Linked DNA regions of Homo sapiens. The protein of the gene in region 1 interacts with the protein of each later gene in a biochemical or structural test. Each region holds a gene or a part of one and is shown in the gene's direction. Other genes may lie near its edges. The genes, in order: NHERF1, NF2, ABCC2 and EZR.

Evidence for each region.
Region 2: the proteins of NHERF1 (region 1) and NF2 form a complex in vitro, tested with the Homo sapiens proteins (2 studies listed by BioGRID).
Region 3: the proteins of NHERF1 (region 1) and ABCC2 form a complex in vitro, tested with the Homo sapiens proteins (2 studies listed by BioGRID).
Region 4: the proteins of NHERF1 (region 1) and EZR form a complex in vitro, tested with the Homo sapiens proteins (2 studies listed by BioGRID and IntAct).

The regions. Positions count from the first base shown.
Region 1 is NC_000017.11:74,758,611-74,765,634, forward strand, and holds part of NHERF1 (Na(+)/H(+) exchange regulatory cofactor NHE-RF1), read left to right. Parts: intron 1-3,401; coding exon 3,402-3,563; intron 3,564-4,756; coding exon 4,757-4,910; intron 4,911-7,024. UniProt on the Homo sapiens protein: Scaffold protein that connects plasma membrane proteins with members of the ezrin/moesin/radixin family and thereby helps to link them to the actin cytoskeleton and to regulate their surface expression. Necessary for recycling of internalized ADRB2.
Region 2 is NC_000022.11:29,669,615-29,676,638, forward strand, and holds part of NF2 (merlin), read left to right. Parts: intron 1-2,211; coding exon 2,212-2,334; intron 2,335-3,654; coding exon 3,655-3,872; intron 3,873-5,221; coding exon 5,222-5,327; intron 5,328-7,024. UniProt on the Homo sapiens protein: Probable regulator of the Hippo/SWH (Sav/Wts/Hpo) signaling pathway, a signaling pathway that plays a pivotal role in tumor suppression by restricting proliferation and promoting apoptosis.
Region 3 is NC_000010.11:99,778,297-99,785,658, forward strand, and holds the start of ABCC2 (ATP-binding cassette sub-family C member 2), read left to right. Parts: upstream 1-4,343; 5' UTR 4,344-4,548; coding exon 4,549-4,581; intron 4,582-6,311; coding exon 6,312-6,485; intron 6,486-7,362. UniProt on the Homo sapiens protein: ATP-dependent transporter of the ATP-binding cassette (ABC) family that binds and hydrolyzes ATP to enable active transport of various substrates including many drugs, toxicants and endogenous compound across cell membranes.
Region 4 is NC_000006.12:158,774,367-158,781,390, reverse strand, and holds part of EZR (ezrin), read left to right. Parts: intron 1-4,886; coding exon 4,887-4,983; intron 4,984-7,024. UniProt on the Homo sapiens protein: Probably involved in connections of major cytoskeletal structures to the plasma membrane. In epithelial cells, required for the formation of microvilli and membrane ruffles on the apical pole. Along with PLEKHG6, required for normal macropinocytosis.

The DNA.
Region 1 (7,024 bases):
CACTGGGGCTATGTTCCTTTTGAGTCTCCTCCTCCCACCATGCTTCGGACCCCTCTGTAGCTGGCTCCTCCTAAGATCCTGGGGGCCACACACCAAGCCCAACATGCCTGGACGTCACTCCCATTTATCCCCTTTCCCCAGAGGCAGAACCCAGCCCTGCCCCAGCTTGGCGGTGAGGGTCCAAGAGCAATGGTGGCTGAGCTCGGCCAGGTACCCCACACCTCCCCATCTTCTCCTCTCAGTGCTGGGCCTGGAGACCACAGGCCAGGCCCCACAGATCCCCAGGGGGGCTGCCCCAAGGGACTCCCCTGCCAGCCCCAGCCTCCACCCAGGCTGGGATGGGCTGGCTTGATGGGCTGACTCAGCAACTGGCACTGACACCTCCTGGAGACAGCTGGGAGGCTCCTGCTAGGGAGGGGTGAGGAGGAACAAGGCTGGTCTCCCTTGAAGAGTGGGAACCCCCCTTCCCATGTGAGGGGAGGAAGTCTCTAGGGACTTGGGAAGGAGGCTCTGCAGGTGCATCGGAGCTGTCTAAATGCTGGTGGGGTCTACCGGGGGCTTCCCATCTCCTTGTCCAGCCACCCCCTCAGGTCCTGGAGCCGCCACAGAGCCACATCTAGACAGAACAGTGGAGCAGGTCCCAGTGCAGGGGAAGGAAACAGAGGGCACCTGAGCCCCTCAGGCTGGGTACCCTGTTTCCCCTTGAACTGCACGACTTGGTGCTGGCAGAGCGGAGCAAGGCTCAAAGCAGGCCCTGGAGCTTTGGCACCATATGTCACTAGGCGAGGGGCACTGGGCTGAAGATCAGTAAGGGAAGCCCACAGCACAGAGACCAGGGCCAGAGGATGGGCATCCCAAAGGCAGCTAGCACAGCCCTGCCCTGCCAGCCGGGGGGGGCGCCCAGAGCCACCTGCCCCCAGTCCAGCCATGCCCCTGCCCTGTCACCCACACCAGGCTTCATCCCCCAGCTCAGGCTGCAGCTCCAGCTGCGAGAGGCCCTGAGCGCCCGGAAGGAAGGCTGTGGTAGGTTGTGGTTTCTTCAGCTCCCAGCCTACCTCCAGCAGAGGCTGCAGCCGATGCCCTGGAGAGAGCCCCTGTCTGCCCTCTGCTGCCTGACTCCTGTTGGGTCCTCACCTCCCAATGGGTTGCCCCATTCTGGACTTGGATCCTTAAGGAGCACCCTGCAGTGTGGTGGAAGGAGGACAGGTTCCAAGTCAGAGACCAGGGTTGGAGTTCTGGCTGTGTGATGTCAGGCAGTGGGCTCCACATCTCTGAGCCTCAGTTTCCCCATCTCAAAAACAGCTGACAAGCCCCAGTCAGGTTGTTATGGGAAGGTTTTTGGGAGCGCAGGGACGGTGGAGGGAGGTTGGAGGAGGTCACTAGAGCTGCCCCCTGCCTGTCCTGAGATTTCACCCTCCCCACTTTCTCAGGGTGTCTGGCTGAAGCAGAAAGCTGCGCCTGTCCTGGTGACGGCGACTGGTCAGACTTGTTTCTGCTCACCTAGGCGGCCCGGGGGAGGGCCTGGCTGGGAGCTTTGTGGAGGGATTAGCTCTAGGGGAGAAGAGCCTCACTTACTCCCGGAACAAGATCCCACAGGGCTGTGGGAGTGCCGGGGGGTGAGCCTGGGGCAGGTGACAGCCGAACTAGCTGGGAGTGGGCCCTGCAGTGAGGCAGGGGGTGGGCCAGGGAGAACAAGGCAAGAGGAGCTTCATTCAGGGTTCCTGAGCCTTTGTGAGCCACTCACGTTTTTACCACTCACTTAACCGTCTTTGTTGTTGGGGTGAGGGGTCCTCGAGCCTGGATTTGGGTATGAAAACCCAGGCAAGAAAGACCTGCCCAAGCCTTTAAAGGAATGCAAAGTCATCCTCTAGCCACCCCCAGAGATCGAAAGGCTGGGGATTGAGTCTCCTGCAGATGGTGGCGGCCTCCTGGGGCTGGCAAGTTGGGACAGAGGCCCATAAGCCCTCCTGGGCGCGCCTTCCCACCCCTCTCGGCCCTCTCCACTCCCAGCTGGGGATTTGGGTTTCAGAGCAGCCTGGCACACACACCCCCACCCCACCAGAATCTCACTCCCAGCTTCCTATGACTATTCATTAGTATTCACAACAATGGGAAAGTCTGGGTGTGCACAGGGATTTTTTACAGTTAGAAAGTGTTTAAGTCAATGACCTCACTGGGCCTCAGCAACCCTGGGAGGCAGATGGCAGTCAGAATGATCCATAAATGACCTGCCCCAGGTCACACAGCTCCTAAACAGGGGAGCTGGAACCTGGCTGGGAGCCTTGACTATCCACTGCTCATTGTCTGATGTGCTGAGTGATAACACAGGGCCAGCAGGCTGGACAGCAGCCAGTGGCCCTGCACCAGGCCTGGAGGAGGGGGAGAGGGACAGGGACTCAGGCGTAGTCCTTGGGCACAGGCTTCGGCTGCCTACACCCATATTCCCTCCATCATACTGTGTGTCCAGGCCTGCAGCTTCTAAGCTGAGCTGCTTACTTTGGACCAAGCATGTTGGAAACTGTTTTCAGCTGAGTCCAAGCACTCGAAATCTGCGTGTGCCCTTTTAGTAGGTCACACCCTCCAGGCCACAGCCACACTGGGCTCCCTTTAGCCCAGCCCTGCTTTTCCCAGTCCCCTCCCCATTCAGGCTCCTCTGTTTCTGGGGTCTCTGTGCTTCCGTTGCCACCTCTGCCCTTGGGCAGCGGTGTCGGGGGAGGAGGTCCTGGAACGCCTGAGGATGGCCCCGTCTTGTCCAGGTCCCCTTGCTGTGCTGAACAATAAGTTTTTGGTTATCTGCTCCTTCTGGCTCCCTTTTGGCTGGGCCATTCGGCTTGGTGGGGGTGAGAGAGAGTTCGAGTATATGGAGGAAGGCTTTACTGTAAACACACTGACCAGCTTTCAGTAAACACCTGCCTCTTCCTCCCCTGCTGCAGAGAACGGGGTACAAAGGGGCTGGGGGTCCTCAGTCATATGCCCCAGGTCCCCAGCCAGGCTGACGGGTGCCACACTCTGCCCCCTCTCCAGGAGGGCCAGACTGAGCCACCAATGGGGAGGGATAGAGGCCCGATCAACACAGCATGTGATTCACCTTAGACTGTCAGAAGGGACAGGCATGTGAGAGCTAACCTGGTCCTACCCCTCATTTGGCAGAAGAGGAAACTGAGGCTTGGACAGAGCAGTGTTTTATCCACATCACCTAAGCAGTTAGCTGCGGTGCTGGGTATCCACACAAGTCTTTTGAGTCCTGGGCCAGAACCCTCTCAAATTGCTGTGTAGGGATCTAGGCAAATTTGCATCCTCCCAAACCTTCCTTGGTTGGGGAGATGGGGACAGGCAGAGGACAGGGAAGGCAGAACCTGGGGCACTGTGGAATAGCCATGGACCCTCCCCTGTCCCTGCAGCGCGAGCTTCGGCCTCGGCTCTGTACCATGAAGAAGGGCCCCAGTGGCTATGGCTTCAACCTGCACAGCGACAAGTCCAAGCCAGGCCAGTTCATCCGGTCAGTGGACCCAGACTCCCCGGCTGAGGCTTCAGGGCTCCGGGCCCAGGATCGCATTGTGGAGGTGATGCTTCTCGCTCTCTTCCTATCTGACTGCCCCCACCCCCTGCAGATCAGCAGCACCTGGGGCAGCCATCATACCATCATGGGCTTGATTAGCCCACGGGCATAGCCAACCTGGAGCTGCTGGATGGATGGGTGGATGGGAGGGAGGGAGGGAAGGGTGGTGGATGGATAGACGGAAGGACAGATGGACTGACTGATGGACTCTTCTCTTACCTCCACTCCCCTGGACTCCTCCTTGCCAAGCAGATACAGTGGGCAGCCTGTGATTCACCCATCGATCAGGGAGATGTCTGGGGCCATCTCCAGAGCTTCCCTGCTGCCAGGCACACAGAGTGGGGTGGCAGTAACAAAACCCCTCTCCTGAGTTAGGCCTTTATTTATTTAGTTTTTTTTTTTTTAAATGGAGTCTCGCTTTGTTGCCCAGGCTGGGGGAGTGCAGTGGCACAATCCCAGCTCACTGCAACCTCCGCCTCCTGGGTTCAAGCGATTCTCCTGCCTCAGCCTCCTGAGTAGCTGGGATTACAGGTGCCCACCACCACGCCTGGCTAATGTTTGCATTTTTAGTAGAGACAGGATTTCACCATGTTGGCCAGGCTGGTCTCAAACTCCTGACCTCAAGTGATCTGCCCGCCTCGGCCTCCCAAAGTGCTGGGATTCCAGGCGTGAGCCACCTCACCCGGCCCCGAGTTAGGCTTTTAGACTCGTGCATTCAGGGCTCTGGTGCTGTGCTCCTGGGAGAGGAAACGTGAACCAAATGCTCAGGCAGGTCCCAGAATCACAGTCTTAGAACCTTAGAGCTAGAGATCAGCTCTCCCAAGACTTCTCATTTTACACGTGAGAAAACCAAGGCCCAGAGAAGGAAGTCGGACAGCAAGTCCTTACCCAGGCTGGGCCCCACCCCGGCCTCCCAGCTCGCTCCCATCCCATCTCTCCCAGCTGTGTTTGTTTAGTCTCGTCTGGATATTTTCGTTGGCCCTTCCCATGTATCCTGCCTCCCCAGCTGACTGTCAATGGGAGGACCCCCAGCCTAGTTCAGGACTCTGCAGAAATGGCGGGGGTCAGTATCCCCAGGTTGTGAACTGCAAACTGGCTGAGAACCAAGGTGGTCACCCCTGCCCCCAACCCCCCTCCACTTACCTGCCCCAGAACCAAGGCCTGTGTCCGTAACGCCTCCCCGACCCTGCCCTGCAGGTGAACGGGGTCTGCATGGAGGGGAAGCAGCATGGGGACGTGGTGTCCGCCATCAGGGCTGGCGGGGACGAGACCAAGCTGCTGGTGGTGGACAGGGAAACTGACGAGTTCTTCAAGAAATGCAGAGTGATCCCATCTCAGGAGCACCTGAATGGTAAGCCAGGTGGGGCCACTGGCCGTCCTGGGGCTGGAGCCCCCCAAGTCAGGGATGTGAGCCAGGGCTAAGACTGCTGGGTCCCAGGCGAGGGGTGGGCAGCTTCCCGGCATGGGTGCTCCCTCCTCCTCCTTCATGGGAGGCCCAGAGGTGTGGGCTGGGGGAGCGGGGGCCTAGTGTAGGGAGTGGCAGTGGGTTTCTGAGGACGGCTTGTGATGGGGTCAGCTGGCATGAGGTCGGTGAGAGAGATGGACAGATCTTCTTATTCCCGGCCAAAGCTGCAGCCCCAAAGGAGGCCCAAGCCCCCAGTCCTGTCCCCACCAGCAGACTTTCAGGGCAGTGTCAATGTGAGGAAAGGGTTAACTCCGGGGAGGCCTCCAGCCTTTGCTTGGTCAGATCAGAGTCCAGTGACGGGGGCCGGTGCCTCCCCCTCCCTCCTCTCAGGTTGTCTTGGAAACTCAGCCTTGCTGGCTCTAGAGAGTAGTGGGTCCCCCTTCAATCCCTGGGCCCCTGCCCTCCCCATCCCCCACCATCACCCTGCCAAGCCTGGCGCCTCCCCCTGCCCAGGCCCGAGCCAAACAGGGCAGGGCTGCTGCACCGGGGCAGGGAGGGGTTAAGCATGCTCTGCTCCTTGGTCTGGACTTTCTCCCTGGGAAGATGGCTCCCTGGAGCGGGCAGGGGTGCTCACTGGGCCATACTGAGGGTGGAACCTCTTGGGACTTTGCAGTGGGTGGGGCCTCCTGGAGACTCAAGGTTGTATGTGTAAAAGGAGATTCACACAAAGGTCCTGCGACTCCCATCGCCAGCTGCAAGGGCCCACTGGGGAGGCCCTGTCCCCTTCTGGCGCAATCCAAGGCCTGAGGCTCCTAGAAGAGGGGATGGCCCCTGGAAGTCCCTAGCTGGCTCTGGGCATGGGAGGTGGGGTACCGCCTTACCCTTATCTCCCAAGTTCATGGAAACCAGGTAACTCAGATAATCCCCTTCTCCACTGAGGGGGAGACTAAGGCCCAGAGAAGCCCCAGCCTTCCTCCTAGGGATCTGATACGAGGAAGACACAGCTGGAATCTGGATTCCACTCAGCTCCTGGGATACTGTCCCCTGCTTCCCCCACCCCTTCACCCTGCAGGTAATTGGCCCCCTCAGACATTCCTCCCTCTTCTGCCTGTCTCTCGGGCTAGAGGGGCTGCAGCCTCTGGCCAAAGGACCTGAAGAGGGAGAGGCCTGGGGACAGTCCCCTCCCCGCAGTCCCTCCAGGATGGCATCCTCACCCTTTCCATAGGGAGGAATGCCCCCCTCTCCGGCTGCCAGGGTTTCACCCTGACCACTGTGAGCTGATGGGGAGGGGACAGTGAGTGACCCTGTGTCCCAGCAGCCTGTCCTTGCCCGGGGAAGGCTGTGGGTGTCAAAAGGGAGGAGAAGATGAGAGTCAGGTATCTCTGGCTGTGTCCTGGACTGGGGACAGGGAAAAGATAACCAGGAATTTTAAGCTAAGAGTTCAGAAGAAGCCCTACACTGACCAGTCCCTGGAGATGGAACAGCCACCCCTGAAGCCATGTGGGACCCCTACCCTGAGTGAGCCCAGTGAAGGTGACCCCAGACCTGTCTTCTCTCCCTCTGACCCCTCCAGGTTTCCCACTGGCTGGGGGAGGGGATACCCAGGACACACCCCTTGAGCCTTCTCGTCCCCCCTCATTTCCTGATTGGCAAATAGGAGTTGGGATTATTTTCTCTTTTTTTCTTTTTCTTTTTCTTTTTTTTGAGATGGAGTCCTGCTCTGTCACCCAGGCTGGAGTGCAGTGGTGCGATCTCGGCTCACAGCAACATCTGCCCCTAGATTCAAGTGATTCTTCTGCCTCAGTCTCCTGAGTAGCCGGGACTACAGCCATGCGCCACCACGCCCAGCAAATTTTTATATTTTTAGTAGAGATGGGGTTTCACTATGTTGGCCAGGATGGTCTCGATCTCTTGACCTTGTGATCCGCCCACCTCGGCCTCCCAAAGTACTGCGATTACAAGTGTGAGCCACCGCGCCTGGCCTTTTTTTTTTTTTTTCCGGACACAGTCTCTGTCACCCAGGCTAGAGTGCAATGGCACAATCTTGGCTCACTGCAACC
Region 2 (7,024 bases), on another chromosome or scaffold:
AAGTAAGAAATCTGAAAGTGTCAGGGAATATGCAGTCTGTGGGCCCTGGCAGAGAATAGCAGGAACACTGCAGATCGGCACTGCTTACAGCACAGCAGAGCCACAAACCTGGCATCTGGGCAACCACAGATCAGGTGGACAGACACTGACCTTGGAGCCAGATCTGAAATTTAGAATGTGAGTAAGTCAATGACTTACCTTCCAGACCTTAGTTTTCTCATCCATCAGGTGAAACTAATGATATACCTTCTCCATCTCAGATGAAGGGACGTATATTACACCTTACAGTCTTTGTATGCAGTAAACTTCTTTTGTGAATAGGAGGTCTTTTATATTGGGGTAGAGGTCTCAGGGAAAGTACAGGGCCAGGAACTGAAGGAGATTACCTGGCTTTTTTTTTTAATAAAAGGGTCTTGTTCTGTCACTGAGGCTGGAGTGCAGTGGTGCCATCATAGCTCACTGTAACCTCAAGCTCCTGGGCTTGAGCAATCCTTCTGCCTCAGCCCCTCAAGTAGCTGGGACTACAAGTGCATGCTACCACACCTAGTTAATTTTAATTGTTTCGTAGAGATCAGGTCTTGCTATGTTACCCAGGCTGATCTCAAACTCCTGGGCTCAAACATTCCTCCTACTTCAGCCCCCCAAAGTGCTAGGGTTACAGGCATGAGCTGCTATGCCTGCCTGGCCTGACTGGGCTTTTTCTTTCTTTCTTTCTTAGTTTCTTTTTTTTTAAAAGAATTGTAGATATGTAGTAAGCCACCTTATGGAAATTGTAATATGATGGAAATTAGAGAACAAATTGGCCAAGCTTTTCATTGACTTACAAGGAGAAAATTGGAGAAGAACTTTCACTGTTTTATTGCTTGTCTTTGCATTATCTTTTTGAGCTTGTGTGTGTGTGTGTGTGTGTGTGTGTGTGTGTGTATTTGGCTTAGGATTTAGAAAAAGCAGCAGTCTTAGAAACCTTGTATGACCAGAGTGTGGGATAAGATTGAAGCAAGAAGTAATTAAATGTGCTTTAATTATTTAAGGCAGAAAATAGTGCAGTGGTCACTTCTGGGTTCTGCTTTTTGAACTCAGTTAGTACCCTGGGATCACAGAGGAATGGCACTGTCTTGTGCTTGTTCCCCTTATTAAGCTCAGCATGTGGCCCAATTAATGCAGTGATCCAGAAGGCAAGGGAGGTAGTGGTGGCTTTGTGCTGTTGCCTTAAGGACACGGGGCTGTGTTTCCCGCCTGGCTCCCTCCTGTCCTAGGCCTGGCTCAGGAGTTGTCTCCACATGAGGCTGTGCAAGTCTGTGCTGTGGCTGTTGCAGCTCCCCCCTGTGAAATACAATGTGTGAACTATTGATGCATCACGTAGAATGATTCCATCTTCTCTGTGGGTCAGAGGCAAGAGTGGAGCTATTGTTGATGAAATCAGAGATGTGAGAGGGGTCCATGTGGATTAGAAATGGTGAGATGGCTTGCCTGCCCAGATGAGAAAGCTGCTTATTTCTGGGGCTCTATCTGAGGGAGGAGGTCCTGCATTGCATCCCATCGGCCATGGGGCAGAGCCACCTGGGGTTTCCCAACAAAAAGCAACATTGGCAAGGTAGCCATTTCAGTGCACCGTGTATAAGAATGCCTCCTTCTGCCAGGCGCGGCGGCTCATGCCTGTAATCCCAGCACTTTGGGAGGCCAAGGTGGGTGGATCATAAGGTCAGGAGTTCAAGACCAGCCTGGCCAATATGGTGAAACCTGATCTCTACTAAAAATACAAAAATTAGCCAGGCATGGTGGCGGGTGCCTATAGTCCCAGCTACTCGGGAGGCTGAGGCAGGAGAATTGATTGAACCTGGGAGGCGGAGGTTGCAGTGAGCCGAGATCGCGCCACTGCACTCCAGCCTGGGTGACAGAGCAAAACTCTGTCCCCTCCACCAAAAAAAAAGAATGCCTTTTTCTATCCGGGTCAAGACTCAACAGGTTTTTATTGTTTGTTCATTTGTTCATTCACCACTAGACTGTTTTTCAAGTGGCACAGCTTTCAACTCTGCAACTGGTTTAGAAGGACGGGGTGGGGGGCAATAAGAATGACCCTGGCTACCTAAAGGAAAGGGAAGGAAAAAGGTCCCAAAAGGGGAGACTGGAGATGGGGCATCTTTGGGCCCTTGTGGCACCCTAGGTCTCGAGCCCTGTGATTCAATGACTGTTTTTCTTCACCCCTCGCAGATGGAGCGGCAGCGCCTCGCTCGAGAGAAGCAGATGAGGGAGGAGGCTGAACGCACGAGGGATGAGTTGGAGAGGAGGCTGCTGCAGATGAAAGAAGAAGCAACAATGGCCAACGAAGCACTGGTGATTTCTGAGGGGCTGGGGTTCCAGGAGGCTACTTGGGGACTTCCTTGGCTTTTCTGGAGCTTGGTCTCCTGAAAACCATGAGTTAGCAGCGTTTGCTTTGAAATACTTAATTTCAGCTTTGAAAAAATCAGTGCCTTTTCTTTTCACCTGTGTTGGCAGAAGCAGATTTAGGTTGAGCTTATGTGCAGCCAAACTCCACTTTCACCACGAGGTTGCCTTTATAGCAGGGCTTCTCAGCCTGGGCACTACTGACATTTGGGGCTGACCATCCTTTGCTGTAGGAACTAGATCCCAGTAGCAGCACCTCACCCTCCATTTGTAACAATCCAAAACATCTTCAGACATTGCCACATGTCTCTTTTTTTTTTTTTTTTTTTTGAGACGGAGTCTCGCTCTGTTGCCTAGGCTGGAGTGTACAGTGGCACGATCTCAGCTTACTGCAATCTTCACCTCCCAGGTTCAAGCAATTCTCCTGCCTCAGCCTCCTGAGCAGCTGGGATTACAGGCATGCATCACCATGCCCAGCTAATTTTTGTATTTTTAGTAGAGATGGGGTTTCCCCATGTTGGTCAGGCTGGTTTCGAACTCCTGACCTCGTGATCTGCCCGCCTCAGCCTCCCAAAGTGCTGGGATTATAGGTGTTAGCCACCGTGCCCAGCTGTACTTTTATTTTTTTTTTTTGAGATGGAGTTTCACTCTTGTTGCCCAAGCTGGAGTGCAATGGCATGATCTTGGCTCACTGCAACCTCCGCCTCCTGGGTTCAAGCGATTCTCCTGCCTCAGCCTCCCAAGTAGCTGGGATTACAGGTGCGCGCCAACACATCCAGCTTTTTTTTTTTTGTATTTTTAGTAGAAATGGGTTTTCACCATGTTAGCCAGGCTGGTCTTGAACTCCTGACCTCAGGTGATCTGCCCGCCTCAGCCTCCCAAAAGGCTGGGATTATAGGCGTGAGCCACCGTGCCCCACCTGCCACATGTCTCTTGCAGGGGACAAAAAACTCCTCTGGTTCTAACCACTGATTTAAAGGGAAAGAACAGAGTTTAAGTTGTTTTTCTCCACGTGAAGCATAAGCCTGAGCTGAGGTGGGTACTCAGAGAAGGTGCTCTTGTTACTCCCCATGGGTGCAGCCCGAAGGGCCCTTCTGAAAAGTTGGGGAATGTGGCTTGTCATTTCTTGTCAGAGGGTCATGGAGGGCACTCAGCAGCAGGGCCCCAGGAGTCCGAGACTCTGGTTTGTCCCATCTCAGTGTTCAAGGCAGATCTGGGCGGGAGAACAGCACATGATCCCACTTCAGCTAAGAGCACTGTGCCCTCCAGATGCGGTCTGAGGAGACAGCTGACCTGTTGGCTGAAAAGGCCCAGATCACCGAGGAGGAGGCAAAACTTCTGGCCCAGAAGGCCGCAGAGGCTGAGCAGGAAATGCAGCGCATCAAGGCCACAGCGATTCGCACGGAGGAGGAGAAGCGCCTGATGGAGCAGAAGGTGCTGGAAGCCGAGGTGCTGGCACTGAAGATGGCTGAGGAGTCAGAGAGGAGGTGAGGGGGCACCGGGCACCAGACTGGCGAGGAGGCTGGCGAAGGGCCGCAGACCAGCCTGCCCTGAGGCTGAGCTCTACAGCAGTTGTCCTCAAGCTGCTTGCCCATCTTCTGGGCCGTGGGGAGGCTCCTCCTTGGCTGATGGTGACTGGTGCTTTATCCATTTTGGGGCTGGCGCTACTGGTTGGGCACAGGAACTCAGTTCCCCCTCCAGGGGGGCCTCTCTGGTCATACTTGTGTCTCTTTGATAAGCCCCTGTCCCTCTGATGGCCGTGTGTGCAGGAAAACCCCTGAGCATATCCACAGACCGCTTTCAGCTGAAGAGATGTGAGGAGGCTCTTTGTGCATTTAAAAAAAGTGTGGTTCTTTTCTGCTTTCATTCAGTGGGGCTGCAGGAGAACAGCAGCTGCCTACCTTTAAAGGGAAGCTAGTGCCTGCATCCCCCAGCCTTTCTTGGCACATGGGGGAGGAGGGCTAGGATGATCTCTGTGACTGGGATGTCCCACTCATGGCCAGGTTGAAGGATGGAACTGTTGTCTGTACTTTTGAAAGACTATTCTAGGCCTGCAACCTTCAGATAAACACTGACACATTCCCCACAGCTTTTGGCTCTGTTGATTTAGAGCACTTGAATTTGGCTTTTAGCTACCAAGGTGCATTCACTACAGTTTTCCTCACCACGCTTTGCATGTCGTTCTGGGAATATGGTTCCTTTTTGCCTGCCCTGCTTCAGGCCCCTTACTGTATTCGGGGGTCACTCCCTGTGCATGATGCAGGTTGGGCCAGGTCCCTGCACCAGGCCTCACATGCCGTGACCACCTGAGCCCCATAGGATGAGGATCTGCACCAGGGTGCGGGTGCCCTCAGTGACTGGGCTCATCTTTCTGCTGGAGAAAGTGGGCACAAGGCCCACTGGTGTTTTATCCGGGGGCTGTGAAGACGCAGTTCTTGCACATTCTGCCCTTTGCGATCCAATATAAGAACTTTGATCCTCCAGGTTCTTCCTTTGCCCAGCTCACTCTCACCCAAAAATAAAGCAGAGAAAGCTGCTGGTGCCCTCTCCAGCTCCTCTGTCTCCTGGCTGCAGAAGGTCTGGTTTCTCTCATTCCCCACCAGTTTTCCTGCTCTTCCAGTTTAGATTTACCAACTCAAACAAAAGTCCTCAGGAATGTTGTCCTTGCTTGGAAGTTCTGATTTCATGTAAATATCCCTGTCTCACTGTCCTTTTTCACCTCTTTGGGTGCCATCCTCAGGGTTAGCCCAGGTCCCTCCTCTGCAGGGGTGGGGTGGTGTCTTTTCCTGCTACCTGCCCTCTTCTGTGAAGCTGACATCTCATCCTTTCCTTGCAGGGCCAAAGAGGCAGATCAGCTGAAGCAGGACCTGCAGGAAGCACGCGAGGCGGAGCGAAGAGCCAAGCAGAAGCTCCTGGAGATTGCCACCAAGCCCACGTACCCGGTGAGCCTGGGGGCCACCAGCTGGGGCTGCCTTAGTCCTGGTGATGTTCTCTTTCCTCCCGGCCCTTCAGTTCATCTGGCGGTGCCTTCAGGGTGACCATTCAGGCAAACACATGGCTGGATGAGAGGTGCAGAGAGCCTGCAGTTAGGGACTGGGTAGAACATCCTGGTCTGCCATTTGGCTTTGGACTAGTTAGTTGTCTCTTTGGTTGCCTGGATAACAGGCAACAGGGCCTTTTCCAGCTCTGGAATGTTTTTCTTTTTCTAAGTAATATAGTCCCAAATTATCCTCAAGAGAATTTGCTCTCTTGCCTCTTAATGCTGAGCTGAATGTAATCTTCAACTATCAGTATATACCATATATCATAATTATAGTTCTGGGAAGGGATTGGCTGTACACCTCAGAGTGAATTACTGCCGTGCAAGAACGAGCAGCCACTCTCAGTTTGGGGACAGAGAGTCAGACTTCCATTAAATGGGGTCACAAAATGAATAGAAGCCTCTTTCCTTCCTTTCTTCTGTGCATTCAGTTTGGCATTTTTTTTTTTTTCATATTTGTTCAGTGTCCACATAGTGCCATGCAGTTGGAAGTCTCTATCCTGACAGGTGTTCTCAGGGTGCACAGGTGCCTAGAGGAGGAGGACACAGCCCACCCTGGAGGAGCAGGAGAGGCTCAGTGTGGTGTCTACACTGATGCTTGAAGGGGGAGCAGGAAGTAGCCAGGTGGAGAAGAGAACATAGGGTATTCAGGGTGAGGGCACAGATGCACACATGGCCCAGACTCACACACAGCACAGTCATCTACATGGCACAGACACACACACGTACCCATACATACATTGATGCACATAGCACATCCACACACACAGCACGGACACACACGCACCCATACTTACATTCATGCACATGGCACAGGCACATACATGACCCAGATGCACAAAGGGCACCAGAGGCACAAGCTGCCCAGGGTTTGAGGTGGGGAAAATGTAAGCAGTTTGCTGTTGCCGTATATCCCGGTTCTCCGTTACTGTGTAACAACCCACCCAAGCCAGCTGTGTGGCTTTGTTAGTACCTCTGGTGGCTTGTTGGGTTGACTGGGCCAGACAGAGATCCTTGCTGGGGATCTCTCTGGTGGTCACAGTCAGATGGTAGCTGGGACTGGAGTCGTCTGAGCAGTCAACTGGGCTGAACACCTGAGATGTGTTATGTTTTTATTTTTTATTTTATTTATTATTTTTTTTTTTAGAGAGAGAGAGTTTTATTTACTCTGTCACCCAGGCTGGAATGCGGTGGCAGAATCTCGGCTCACTGCAACCTTAGCCTCATAGGCTCAAGCGATCTTCCCGCCCCAGTCTCCTGAGTAGCTGGGACCACAGACATGCACCACCACGCCCAGCTAATTTTTTTTTTTATTTGGTAGGGACAGGGTTTTGCCATGTTGCCACAGCTGGTCTCAAACTCCCGAGCTCAAGTGATCTGCCTGCCTCAGCTTCCCAAAGTGCTGGGATTATAGGCATGAGCCACTGTGCCCAGCCTATATGTGTTGTTTTTAAAATATACACTGGAGCAAAGCTTATACACTGCTGTAACTGCTCTTTCCTCTTAGCAGTCAATCCTGAAGGAGATCATCCATATCAGCTTTTTAATCATGTTTTGTTGTGTGGATGGATTGTAATTTATTTAACCAGTCCCTCATGG
Region 3 (7,362 bases), on another chromosome or scaffold:
AAAAGGTTGGGGACCACTCCTCTATAGGAATTCTTTTAACATTTCTTGCAAGGCAGGTCTACTGGCAACAAATTCCCTCAGTCTTTGTTTGTGTGAGAATGTATTTATGTATTTATTATTATTTTATATATATATATAGAGAGAGAGAGAGACAGAGAGAGAGAGAGAGAGAGAGAGAGAGAGTGTCTCACTATGCTGCCCAGGCTGGACTCAAACTCTTGGATCAAGCAATCCCTCCACCTCAGCCTCCTGAATAGCTGGGACTATAGGCACGCACCACTGTGCCTGGCTTCTCTTTACTTTTAAAGAATAATTTTGTGGGTACAGAATGCTGGCTGTTGGTGGCTTTTTTCTCTCACCACTGTAAATATTTCATTCCATTCTCTTCTTGCTTGCATGCTTGCTGAGGAAAAGTTGGACATAATTTTCATCTTTTCTCCTCTACAAGTAAGGTCTTTTTCCCCGGGCTTCATTCAGAATTTTTTATCTTTGATTTCCTGCAACTTATATATGCATGCCTGGTTGTAGGGCTTTTGTTTGTTTGTTTGGCATTTGTTCTACTTGGTGTTCTCTCAACTTCTGTGATCTGTGATTTGGTGTCTGAAATTAGTATGAGGGAAATTCTCTTTCATTATTGCTTCAAATATTTATTCTGTTCCTTTCTCTGGTTATTCTCTTCCTGCTATTTCCATTACACATATGTTATACCCTTTGTAGTTGTCCCATAGTTCTTGGAGATTCTGTTTATATAGTCTTACTTATTTTTGCAGTTTTGGCAGTTATTTTCAAGTTCAAATATTCTGTTTTCAGCCTTGTTCAGTCTACCAAAAAGCCCATCAAAGGCATTCTTTATTTCTATTACAGTGTTTTTGATCTCTAGTATTTATTTCTTTTTAGTTCTTTCTTAGAATTTAAACTCTCTGCTTACATCGACCCATTTGTTCTTGTATGCTGTCTACTTTATCCATTAGAGCCCTTGGCATTGTGATCATAGTTGTTTTAAATTTCTGGTCTGATAATTCCAACATCCCAGTCATATCTGAGTTTGGTTCTGAGGCTTGCTCTCTGTCTCTTTAAAGCCTTTTTTTTTTCTTTTTTTTTTTTTGCCTTTTAGTATGCCTGGCAATGTTTTCTTCATAGCTGGACAGGATATACGGAGTAAAAGGAAGTGCTGTAACTAGACCTTTAGTAGTGTGGTATACAGTGGGGGAGGGGGAGAGGAAGAGTTCTATAGTTCTGTGAAGAGGTCTCAGTCTTTTAGTAAACCTGTGTCTCTAGACTGAATTTCACAAGTGCTTCTCAGTTCCTATCTGCCCCGATCCCTGTTAGGTGGGACGTGATGGCTAGAGTGGGCTGCAGCTGGGTATTTTCAGTTTTCATGTGGAAGGCTAGAAGAGACTGGAGTTCTTATTTCCCTTCTCCGGCATCATTTAGGCTCCTATAAATCAAGAGCATTAGGCTCTATTTAAACAGTTTTTCCCAAGGGCAGACTTTGTTTAGAAGAGAAGAATAGAGTGTCCAGGTATATTTCAAATGGTTACTTTTCCTATCCCCTCTGCCAGGGACATGGAAGCAGGAGGAGATTTTTCTCTAATAAAAAGAGAACAATATTTGAGAACCTCTTTGAATTCCTATGGGTAAACTCATGAAAGTGTGGAGATCATCCCCTCCTTATGGCTGAGTCACTCTGGAATTTTTCTCTCTCAAACTTATCTACACTGGGCCTCCGGCAATTCAATTACAGTTCAGGTTTTCCTGCCCTAGCCCTGGTTCCTGCTGAGATTTCTTTTCTTTTTTCTTTTTTTTTTTTTTTTTTTTTTTGAGACAGTGTCTCTGTTGCCCAGGCTGGAGTGCAGTGGCGTGATCTCAAGTCACTGCAAGCTCCGCTTCCCGGGTTCACGCCATTCTCCTGCCTCAGCATCTCCGAGTAGCTGGGACTACAGGCGCCCGGCACCACGCCCGGCCAATTTTTTGTATTTTTAGTAGAGACAGGGTTTCACTGTGGTCTCGATCTCCTGACCTCGTGATCCGCCCGCCTCGGCCTCCCAAAGTGCTGGGATTACAAGCGTGAGCCACCGCGCCCGGCCCCTGCTGAGATTTCTGCGCCAGTAAATTGTGATTTTTGATATTCTCTTGTTTATCTCTTCAGTTTGCCCTGTAACCTTATCTCTCTACAGATCTAAGAAGAGTTATTGATTTTTCTATTTGTTCAGATTTTTAGTTATTGTTAGGAAAGATTCATGACTTCCTGGCTCCTTACTTGCTTTTCTCATTCAATATTCCCTATGAGTACATATTTTATACTTTAAGCAACTTGTTTTGATGAACATTTAGATTCTCCACCCTCTCTTTTTTTGATTACTTAGAACGTTTAGGCCAGACACGATGGCTCATGCCTGTAATCCCAGCAGTTTGGGAGGCCGAGGCGAATGGATCGCTTGAGCCCAGGAGTTTGAGGCTCTACAAAAAAATTAAAAAAAGAAAATTAGGTGTTAATCCTTGACCTTATATTTCTCAAAGTTTTACCAAGAGTTCCCCCGGACTCCGAGTCCTACCACCAGTGCCAAGAGAAGTATGCAGCCTAAAGGTGCACCCTGCCCCAAGTGAGATCTCTTAGTTCCACAGCTGACCTTTCCTGGCTCTTCTGGTGAGTGGTATGGAAAATGATGGAGAAACTGCCATATGTTTTCATAATGGTCAGACCAATTTACATTTCCATCAACAGTATACTAGGGTTCCCTTTTCTCCACACCCTTGCCAGCACTTATCTTGTTGTTTTTTTTTTTTTTTTGTAATAGCCATCCTAATAGGTATGAGGTGGTATCTAACTGTGGTTTTGATTTGTGTTTTCCAGATGACTTGTGAAGTTGATTCAGTTGTCATATACCTGTTGGCCATTTATATGTCTTCTTTGGAAAAGTGTCTGTTCAAGTCCTTTGCCCACTTTTTAATTTGTTAGTGTATGTTTGCTATTGAGTTGTATGAGTTCCTTATAGTATATTGTGGATATTAACTCTTCATCAGTTATATGGTCTGCAAATATTTTCTCCCACACTGAATGCTGCCTTTTCATTTTTTTTATGTGTATACTTGACTTTTAAAATCAGTAACAAGGTCCATACAATTCACATTTGGCTGATATGCCTCTTGATTCTCTTGTAATTTGTAAGTTCCTTTGACTCCTTTCCTTCTTTTAATTTATTTATTAAAAAATGGAATCATTTGCACTATAGAATCTCCCACATTCTGGATTTTGACAATTGCATTCCAATGGAGTCCTTTAGCATGTTCCTGTGTTTCTTATAATCCGGTAGTTAGATCTAGAATTTGACCAGATTTAAGGCCAATTTTTTTTAGCTAGGATACTGCATGGGTGGTTATGTTTTAGCTAGGATACCGCATGGGTGGTTCATGATATCATGAAAAAAGCATGTTCTTAAAGCAATTTAAGTGACAGTACAAAAGGTTGGGTCAGGTGGGGCACGGTAGCTCATGCCTGCAATCCCAGCCCTTTGGGAGGCCAAGGCAGAAGGATTGTTGAAGCCTGGAGTTTGAGACCAGCCTGGGCAACATAGTGAGACCCCGTCCCTACAGAAAACATTTTTTTAATTAGCTGGGCTTGTTGGCATGTGCCTGTAGTCCCAGCTACTCAGGAAGCTGAGGCAGGAAGATCGCTTGAACCCATGAGGTCAAGGCTGCAATGAATCATGATGGCAACACTGCACTCTAGCTCAGGCAACAGACCAAGACCCTGTCTCAAAAAACAAAAAACAATAACAAAAAAAGAAAAGGTTGGGTCGATGACAGTTTCTAGCGACTGATGCCACCACTCTGTTTACAGAATCACCCCTCTCCTCTGGCCCTGATGTTTTATCATGATATCATATTTACAATGCCTGGCAAAGGCTTCATTCCCATTTGGCATACTACCTCTCAGGCAAATAGAACTTTTGAAAGCCTGTATTATGTATATAACATATAGGCTCACACTGGATAAGCTATTTTATAACCTGACTTCTTCAAAGAAAGTTTACATCATGTTTAAACCATGTTTTAGATTCTATATTTTTAATTAAAAATCTAAGGAAGAAGGATATTTCACATTTCTATAAACTCTAAGATCTTGCAGCAGAAGCGAAACTGCACATTTAGGGGTGCCTGCCCCTCTACTGATGCTGCCCTTTGTGGGTCATATGTCCTTAGGAAAATGAAAGACTGTGCACTCTTGATTTGTTGGCCAGCTCTGTTGACATCTTTCAGTGGTTCCTTTTATGTATGGCCACTCCTACAGAGGCCTCTTGTACTTTGGGAACTGGTGAGTCTCCCTGTCCCTAGGGCTTTTTAGTCACATGTCCATCCACTGTTTCAATGTAACATGCATCTAGGCAAGGTTAACGATTAAATGGTTGGGATGAAAGGTCATCCTTTACGGAGAACATCAGAATGGTAGATAATTCCTGTTCCACTTTCTTTGATGAAACAAGTAAAGAAGAAACAACACAATCATATTAATAGAAGAGTCTTCGTTCCAGACGCAGTCCAGGAATCATGCTGGAGAAGTTCTGCAACTCTACTTTTTGGGTGAGAAATTACATTTATCTTCATATTGACTCTTCTCAGACTCAGAACAAGTGGTAGTTAGTTAACTTAGGGTGGTCACCAACAAGAACCAGAAATGTTAGATGTGCAATTGGTCTAAAGCTCAGGCTTTTTAGAAAGCATAATTCATAATATCTCCAGAGGATATAAGATCTGGGAAATGTAATGCAAATTATTCTCTGTCATATGTTTTTTTATATCAGACTCTTGTACTAGCTAGTCGCAAAATTGCCTTCTCTAAAGAGAAACAGGTAAAAACCTTCCAATTTAATCCGTGTGAGGAAGGAGAATTGTTGTTGCATACTTTGCTAGTAGAAGGAAGAGAAGATCCGTGACTGAGTCTTGCTGAGACATGTTGATGTTGAAATGATAATGATAAGTTCTAGAACTGGCAACTAATGATATGGACTAGAAGTTGAGTCTAGGGATGCAACTTTGGGCATCATGAGCATTGAAATAATTTTTGAACAACTAGAGTTGGGTAATATTGTTTTTAAGGAAAAGAAGAGACACCACTTAGAGGGTGAACAAGAACAGTGTAACATTACGGAGTCATAGATAGCAAAAAATTTCAAGATAGGGGCCAATCAACAGTATCAAAGGTCTAGTGGAATAGAAAACAAAAAAGGACCTTAGATTTAGTGATTTTAGTAAGGGTTTGGTGAGAAAGTATCATCTGCAAACTCCTAGCCTCAGCATCAGAATCACCTGGGGCAATAAATGTAGTTTAAGTATCTTAAGTGATTCTTCTGAATTCTAACATTTGATAACCTTATATAGAGGTGAGAGGGGCAGGGATGAGATAGCAGAGCACCTGGGCAGCACCTCGTGTCTTAGAAAGGACCTGGGTCCCAAGACCCTCGAGGCCAGGAGTGTATACCACGGCAAGGTGGATCTTCATGGGCTATAGTATCTAGACAGGCCATCTCTTGAGAATTCTTTCTGAGAACTACCTGACAAACTTTCTTGGTCAGGGCATCGCAAGCAATTCTTTAAAGAGTCTGTATAAATAATCATATAAAACAATTTTTAACTATTTATAGGAAAAGAAAAATCCACACTCATGTGACTCAGATACAAGAATTGGTGCCCACCCCCCACCCCCCAACTTCCACTTCACAAGACACTTCCATTTATCGCAGAATGCAAAGACTGCACAAAACTTGCTGGTTGGAAGCCTTCTGTCCAACAATGCTGTTGTCACTGCTGTGCTGAAACTGGCCAGGTTTTTAATGTAAGCGCTTTGGGCCATCAGAGAGCAAATGTTACAGTATGACTAAGCATTCTCCCTGCATGGCGCCTGCATGTTTGAATATCTGCCAGTGAGTTCAGTTAGTGCTAGAAACTTGAATAATTTTTTATATCCCAGGGAACTATTCTGTCCTTTAAACTGGGGAACAGTCCTTCTTCATCCTATAATTTGGCAAATGCAGTGGTGAGGTTTACTCAGAATAGCTGGTACAAAATTCACTTAGAATCACAAGAAGACACGTTTTTGGAGGGTGGGTTGGCCAGAAAGTGACTACATTTGTCATTAAATGGTGAATTTGTATCCATGTGCACAAATAGGAAAATACGGATAGTTAAAGGGTAAGGCTGGATATGGATATGGAGTTGAATTTAAATTGTGTGAAAGCAGTGGGATGTGCTGCAGGGTGGTTTTCTGTCTTCACAATGCATGTATGCAACAATCCTTCCCCTTTGGTCTCCAGAATTCCTCATTCCTGGACAGTCCGGAGGCAGACCTGCCACTTTGTTTTGAGCAAACTGTTCTGGTGTGGATTCCCTTGGGCTACCTATGGCTCCTGGCCCCCTGGCAGCTTCTCCACGTGTATAAATCCAGGACCAAGAGATCCTCTACCACCAAACTCTATCTTGCTAAGCAGGTAAAGTTAACACCACTGTTTCTGAACTCTAATTCCTTGGTGCACAGTAGAGACATTTTCTTGGTGGTTAGTGTTCTCTTCCTTGTCTTTAAGCAGCTGTCCCAGGTGCCATTGTCTCAGGTAGAGCCAGGCTCAAGGTTTCCCTCACGGGTCCCTTGCTGCATTTCTTAAATCAAAGTGGCTTTGATTTTTGCATAAGAATGGTGACTCTTAATTCTTGTGGATATTGGGTTCCCTAAACACAAAGGGCATATAATCAATCAAATTATCTTTATAGCATTTGAGAAATGAACACTGGATCACCTGTCTTTAAACAGCTCTAATAAATCAGTGGACTGTAATTCAGTTGGCATCTACCTCGTGAAAATGAGCTAGATAATGGATCTCCTGCCCCACTGAGGCAATCCAACTATCACTCATCTTCAAAAACTTGGGTCCGAAATAAGGTTTCCATTTTCCCCGCATATTTGATGAGTCAGGATGATCACTCACAGTAGAAGGAGGAGGGGTAAGTGTGCACAGTGACAAGCACGAGTAGGGAAATAATGGAAAGGACAGGTCTGCGGGAGAGGCCCAGGAGGGGCCAGGAGGGGAGGAGCCCTCAGCCAGCTGCACCAACTCACTCAGGGAAGGGTCTTGTGGGAACCCAAGACCCTCATTCGAGGTTGTAAAATTATCTCATAAAATCTTCCATCTGCTTCTTTTCACTATTTTTTTTTCTATCTCTCCTTATTATCATTATTACTACCATTTTAAATGGAGTCTCACTCTGTTGCCCAGGCTGGAGTGCAGTGGCACTATCTCGGCTCACTGCAACCTCCACCTCCTGGGTTCAAGCAATTCTTATGCCTCAACCCCTCCCGAGTAGCTGGGATTA
Region 4 (7,024 bases), on another chromosome or scaffold:
GGCAACTCTCTCAGATGGTTCTTTCCCCACAGAGCATGCTGGGGTGTTGGGCAGGCTCACTTTCTGCCTCTCTTCTCCCCATTCCTGAAGGCACACCCCTCTCTTCATGAAAAAAGCATTTATGTAGATATTCAGTCATTTAATAGGCCCAAATTCTTTCCCTTTTGAACAAATATTGACAACTTGGTAGCAGCATAAGCAGGAGACTGTCCTGAAGTCTGAGGAGTGCTGAGAACTCGCCAGCTGTTGCGCTGTTACCTCTCTCGGTAGAACTAGGAGAATTAGATATGCCTGAAACATTGTTCAGGTGAGAAAGCTGATCTATTGAATATGGAAATTGAGCTCTAAGAGATTTATACTCTGCAAGTAAAGTCTCTATTAAAACACCTGTTTTAGTATTAAATAGGGTCTGGCTGGGAAATCTGTCTCTTGGGGTTCCCTTTTCATTGTACACATAAGCATTAAGTGGGAGCATGTAGGACTATTTGTCATCTTTCTTTAAACCCTTAGCTTGGAATAGGTGGGAGTATAAAGAGGGCAAAAACAGGTAAGCGCCCTCCTGACAGGCATTGTAAGCTTGTGAACAGAGGAAGTTCAGTTTAGCTGGGTTACAATTTGAAACCTGACACTCGGACCAAAAACAAAAACTAACAAAAACTAGAGGAACCTGATCTTTAGTCCTGTAAAAGCACTTTTTCTCCCTTAGCTTCATCCCTCTTTGGGCAGATTTCATCATAGAAGTCCTTCTGTAGGTAGGAGTTTCTGGAAATGCACTAGGTCCAGGGCTTCCACCTTAAAGGGAAAGGGTGCACGGGGAGCTTGGGGACTGAAACAGGAGCCACAGAACATGTCTCTTCTTTAAATTCCTTGCGGATAGGTACTCAGGGCTTCGCTTGCTTTCTCACGTCTCTTTCCGTATGCACTCCACTGTCACCCTCTGGCCCTCTAACACATTTCCAAGAAAACTGCAGGCATCCATATCCTTCCTCAAAATGAAAGTGCATATGATATACTAGAGGTTGGTTATGTTTTGTTCTTTTGATGTAAAATTTAAATACAATGAAATGTAATCTTAAGTGTTCATTTGTTGAGTTCTGACAAATATGCCTGAAAAATGCAAAATCTTAAGACATGTAGAACATTATCACACTCAGCTACATATTTTGGATTTACATTTTTTAATCATTCTTGGTTTTTTTTTTTTTTTTGATATGGAATCTCACTGTGTCACCCAGGGTGGAGTGCAATGGCACATTCTCAGCTCACTGTAACCTCTGCCTCCTGGGTTCAAGCGGTTCTCCTGCCTCAGCCTCCCGAGTAGCCAGGATTACAGGCACATGCCACCACTCCTGGCTAATTTTTGTATTTTTAGTAGAGATGGGGTTTCACTGTGTTGGCCAGGCTGGTCTCAAACTCCTGACCTCAAATGATCTGCCCACCTTGGCTTCCCAAAGTGCTGGGATACAGGTGTAAGCCACCATGCCTGGCCCATTCTTGCATTTTAAAGTCATTTCAGGCTGGGCATGGTGGCTCATACCTGTAATCCCAGCACTTTGGGAGGCTAAAACAGGTAGATCCCTTGAGCTCAGGAGTTCAAGACCAGCCTGGGCTGGTCTTTGCCAACATGGCAAAACCCCGTCTCCACCAAAAGTACAAAAAATTAGCTGGGCGTGGTGGTGCATGCCTGTGGTCCTAGCTACTTGGGAGGCTGAGGTGGGAGGATCACTTGAGCCCGGGAGGCGGAGGCTGCAGTGAGCCAAGATTGTGCCACTGCACTCTAGCCTGGGTGACAGAGTAAGACCCCATCTCAATTTAAAATATATATATTATTTCAAACTTTAAAAAGATTCTAAAAATAGTACAAATAATTCCCATATACCCTTCACTTAGCTTCCTCAAACATTAACACCTTATGTAACCGTAGTCCAAATACCAAGATAAGAAAATTAACATTAGCAGTCTCTAGACCTCATTCCCATTTTAATCAGTTGTCTCACTGATGTCCTATTTCTGCCCCGGGACCCTCTCTGGAGCCACACAGTTAGTTGTCAGACCTCCCTGTCTCCTTCGATGTGGGATAGTTCCAGTCTTTTTTTGTCATGACCTTGGTATTTTTGAAGAGTACTGGCCATTGACTTTGGAAAGCCCTTCAGCTTGGATTGTCTGGTGTTTTCTCATTATTTGGAGTTTTACATTTTTGGTAAGAATAAAGTGCTGTTTTGCCCTTCCAGGACCTCTTTCAAGGTGGCACATGTGGTCGGTATATCTTATCTTAGGTGGTGCTAATTTTGATTATTAGTTAAGGTGGTGTCTGCCACGTTTCTCCACTGTAAAATCACTATCCTTCCCTTTACAATTGGTCAGTATATTTGGGGGAGATAATTTTAAACTATGTAGATGTCCTAGTTCTAGCTACCATTGATGAGATTACTGTGGTATTTGAGAAATTGTGATTTTTAAAAACTTTTTACGTGTATTAATTGGAATTCTATAAGGAGCCAATTTCTGTTCTCCATTTATTCAGTTATATTAATATGGACTCATGGATATGTGTTTCGGTCTTTGGGTTATGATCTATGAGTATGTATCTTCTTGCTCAGGTTGTTTGAGATTTGGCCTTTAGGAGCACCTTGAAGTGTGAGCCCTGCATTCTTTGCAGGCTTCCTTGCTGCCTGGCTCCTCGAGATGCACCAGGTTCATCCTTTGTGTTCCCTGTTCTAGTCCTGGAATCAGCCATTTCTCCAAAGGCCTCTGTCTGGTCCCTGTTATTGGAGAATCACGCTTTTTTAATGTGTGGCCTAAGCAAGGACACTTATAAACCCTGTGGCCACCTTCTCTGTAGACCCTGTTCATGTCCTATATGTGATCTCTTAGGAAAAAGGAAATCCTTGGGCTTTAATTTTCCAACTTTGGTCAAGAATTAAAAGTTCTTTAACTCAAAAGTGAGTCATAATTTTCATGTTTAACCTTTTTGTTTTGATACTGCAGTTATGCTTATGAGTGGCTATGAATTGTTATATGAGGTTTCAAAGTCCTAAGAGGAAAAACTTTCTAGGCACACCAGAGAGCCGGAGGCCTAAATTTTCTAAGGTCAGAACCTGTTTTGAGAGTCCTGTGTAGAGACAGGAGCCGGAGAGGGGATCCCAGCCCCTTGAAGTTTCAGGATGCGGCACGCTGGCTCACAGTGCTATGTGCTGTGGGCGGAGCCTCCGGAGCTTGGATCCTAGCTTCTCTGTTGGTGCCAGCAGGCTGCTCTTGTGTTTTGGGAGAAAGTGCTCCAGAAGCAACACATGCCTACCTGGTGCCACTTTCACAGCCTTTCAATGTAAGGAGGACATAGGCTGAAGTCAGTAGCAGGGCAAGGTGGTATCTGGAGTTCCCCTTTAATGCTCTGAAACCTGTAAAGAAAATTACATCTCGAAGATAAAAGAACAAACTCATTGCATGTCTGTTTGAATGCCAGGTGTGTTTTTTTTTAATGGGGATTGGTGATTCTAGAGCATAGCACTGTAAAAGAAAGGATGTATACAAAAGCTTTGACATTTAGAACCATGGTCTGGCCAGTGTCCTGCCATCATTCCTGCAGGCACACCATGACTGACTGCGCTAATTCCCCAGAAGGGCCATGTCAGGCTTACATGTTTGCCCTCAGCCTACAGAGTCCACCCCACTGCCTTGATCTAGTTGATGTGATCATAACGAAACCTGTATTGCTCATCAGTATTGAAGCTGTTGGTAGGCCATAGATTGCTTGACCTTCCTGCTACTTCTAAAATGAAGGTTTTTGTGGGATGTTGGAAAGGACTGCTTTGGAGGGCAGCATTGTTGGATGGTGGTTTTGAGGATTTGTCGTTATTTCCAGAATGGCATTATCCCTGGTAAAATGTGTTGGAAGAATAGGGTGGGAAGTGTCAGGTGAGCAGAGCAATGTGGTCTTGAAGTCACATGATGAACTTGGGAATGCTAATAAAAGCCAGAGTCTGGCCAGTCATGGCATTGCATTGGTTAAGTAGGATTAGCCCTGTGGGGCCTTCATTAGGGCGGTTAGTTTGAAGGCTGTCCTGGAAGTTGGAGAGTGACATGGGAAGATGTCTGTCCAGCCAGGAGAACACACACTGGAATGAGAACCAGAGGAGCAGAATGCATAGCAAGGCCTCTGTCCGTTTCTCTTGGCAAGCTCTGTTGAGTATGGCACGTCTAGGAACGTGATGGGATCTTGGCCCTCCCTGTTGGTTTCATAGAACTAAATGATCAGTAACTTAAATAACATTCAACAGTCTGTAGCAGAAGAGCCTGTATGTTAAGAGAGGCCTCAAGGGAAAGGGAGGCAGCCCTGGGGAACTGTGTGTTGAAAGGTGGGTCTGAACCGTGGAGTTTGGGGCTGGATTTGACAGCTCTTGGATGCTGAGTTAAGGACTGTGTTGACATGGGAGGAGAGGAAATTAATCAGATCAGCAGACTGAAAGTAGGGCTGCTCCAGCACACAGCTTGAGAGTGGGCTCTGGCAGGATGAGAGGTAGGTGAGTGTGGTGATGTGATGTGGGAATGAACAGCAGAAGATACCTGAGGGGGAGGGTCAAGGTACCTGGGTAGGAATTTCAGTTGACCTCGAGATCACCAGCCTGGGTAATCATAGGTGCCCTAGACTGAGGAAAAACCAAAGGAAATGGGAACAGATTAAGGTTGCAGATGCCTTGCAGCCAACCACTTGGCTTAACCTAGGACAGGTGGGAACTATTTGATAATAGCATATAACACATTGTGCCTCTTGGGTTAGCTTCATATTATTTTAATTGAACTAATAAGAATTGATTTGCGAATCTCTCTTAGCCAATCCAAGAACATATGTATACATCTAACCATCCACTTCTTCTTTTTAACCTCAGGTTAACCCCAAAGATTGGCTTTCCTTGGAGTGAAATCAGGAACATCTCTTTCAATGACAAAAAGTTTGTCATTAAACCCATCGACAAGAAGGCACCTGTAAGTTCCAAAGGATTCTATTCAGGGGCTACTGTTTTTCATTCTTATACTTGTCAGGGTAACGGACAAGTTATACTGTGACGAGTAGCCAGTGATAGTCCAAACTCCTCATGAGGTTACATTGAGGGCCAGAGATCCTGTGGGCCAGGCAATTGCTGCAGGGGAGACCACTTAACTTTTCAAATGATTCTCATTCCTTATGAAGAAAAGGGCAGTTCTGAGCCATTGGCCAAATGATAAGCATTTCCCAAAATGCTGTGTTTTTGGTGTGGAGAGCCAGCCTGTCCCCTTGACCACCTGGGTGCAGGGACTCTCCCCGGCACCTGACGGACAGTGGGACCTGCGAGTCTCAAGGGCCAGATTTGCCTTTCAGAGCTGTCCTGGAACTTACCCAAGATAGGGACAGTCAGACTTGCACCCAAGCATTGCTGGTGCCCAAGGTTTCATCGGGGCTTCACCCACTTCTGTTGTCAGAGGTGTGCATCCTCACACAGGTGACACTGGCAGGCAGTCATTTTGGGAGGACATGGTAAGAAGGCGACACTTTATGTCCTGAAATCTGATAGTATTGATTGTAATAGCTGCAAAGACCAGTGCATTATGTAAATTTGGTTTTATTTATTCTGCTGACATTTAAACTTTTGTTAACTCAGAATATTTGAGACATACGCACATAACTGTAGCATTGTAGAATGGGTAAGGATTTTGTTATCTAATCAGAAATCTAGTTCTCTAAAAAATTGCCACCTGAAGAAATTCTGTTACCACCTTAGAGCCTGTTCTGAATTTTACGAAAATTATAGATTGGAAAGGACTTTGTGTTCTCATGTAATTTTGGTTCCTTAGTTACAGTGTTAAGCTTGGAGAGGCAAACATGGGCTGTGGTCCATACCTTGGTTGTCTTGTTAACCCTTTTGGGACTGGGTACTGCTTAGCAATGGTAAATCCACTTAGAACAGTATGTGGTGTTATTGTCCTGTTACTTCTCCCCACATACAGGTTTGTCTAGCATAATTTAAAATCAGCAGGTCTTGACAATTTTGTGAAAGTATTTTCTTCTTTGTTAAAAACGTCTTGGCCAGGCTCAGTGGCTCACGCCTGTAATCCCAGGACCTTGGGAGGCTGAGATGGCCGAATCACGAGGTCAGGAGTTCGAGACCAGCCTGGCCAACACAGTGAAAACCCCATCTCTACTAAAAATACAAAAATTATCTGGGCGTGGTGGTGGGCGCCTGTAATCTCAGCTGCTCGGGAGGCTGAGGCAGGAGAATCGCTTGAACCCAGGAAGCAGAGGTTGCAGTGAGCTGAGATCGCCACTGCACTCAAGCCTGGGTGACAGAGCTAGACTCCGTCTCAAAAAAAAAAAAAAAAAAGGGCTCCTGCTGTTTGCAAACTCTTGGCTGCTACTCTGTGGGTAGTTGCACGGTTATTTAAAATTAAACGCGTATTGAATGCAGACTCTAAGGCTCCATGGCAGCAGTTCATATTATGCAACAGCATGAATGGAGGGTCATAGCGTCTTCATGTCACTTGGGTAGTAAGATTGGCACAGTTTAGAAGAGCAAGAAAATGCTGAAATCTCTTCATCAGTAGGCTACTACGTACTCTGTGACGCTACTGCCTTTTCAGAACACTTATTAAAAATTTGACTAGAGCAGCAGCTCTGGACTAGACTGTTTCAGAATGTTTGTGCGTGTGTGTGTGTGTGTGTGTGTGTGTGTGTGTGTGTGTGTGTTTGATGATAAGTCCATCTCTTGAAAAGCTGAAGAATATTTTCATAATAAGCCCCAAGCAGAAGCCATTGTAACGCATCTCGTGCATGTGCCTTTATTATAGAGTAGCCTCATGTGAAGCCATCTCGTAAGCAAAAGAAACATTCGCTGGTGGCACGCTGTCCCAGGCACTCTTCCAGGGCTGTGTGCACCATCAACAAGGCAAAGCTCCTACCCTGGTGAGCCTACATTTACGTGAAGGAAAGGGTTAAAAAGGCAACTGAGATGCTTCCTGGTAGTAAATTTAACAGTACAGCTGTGATTAAAAA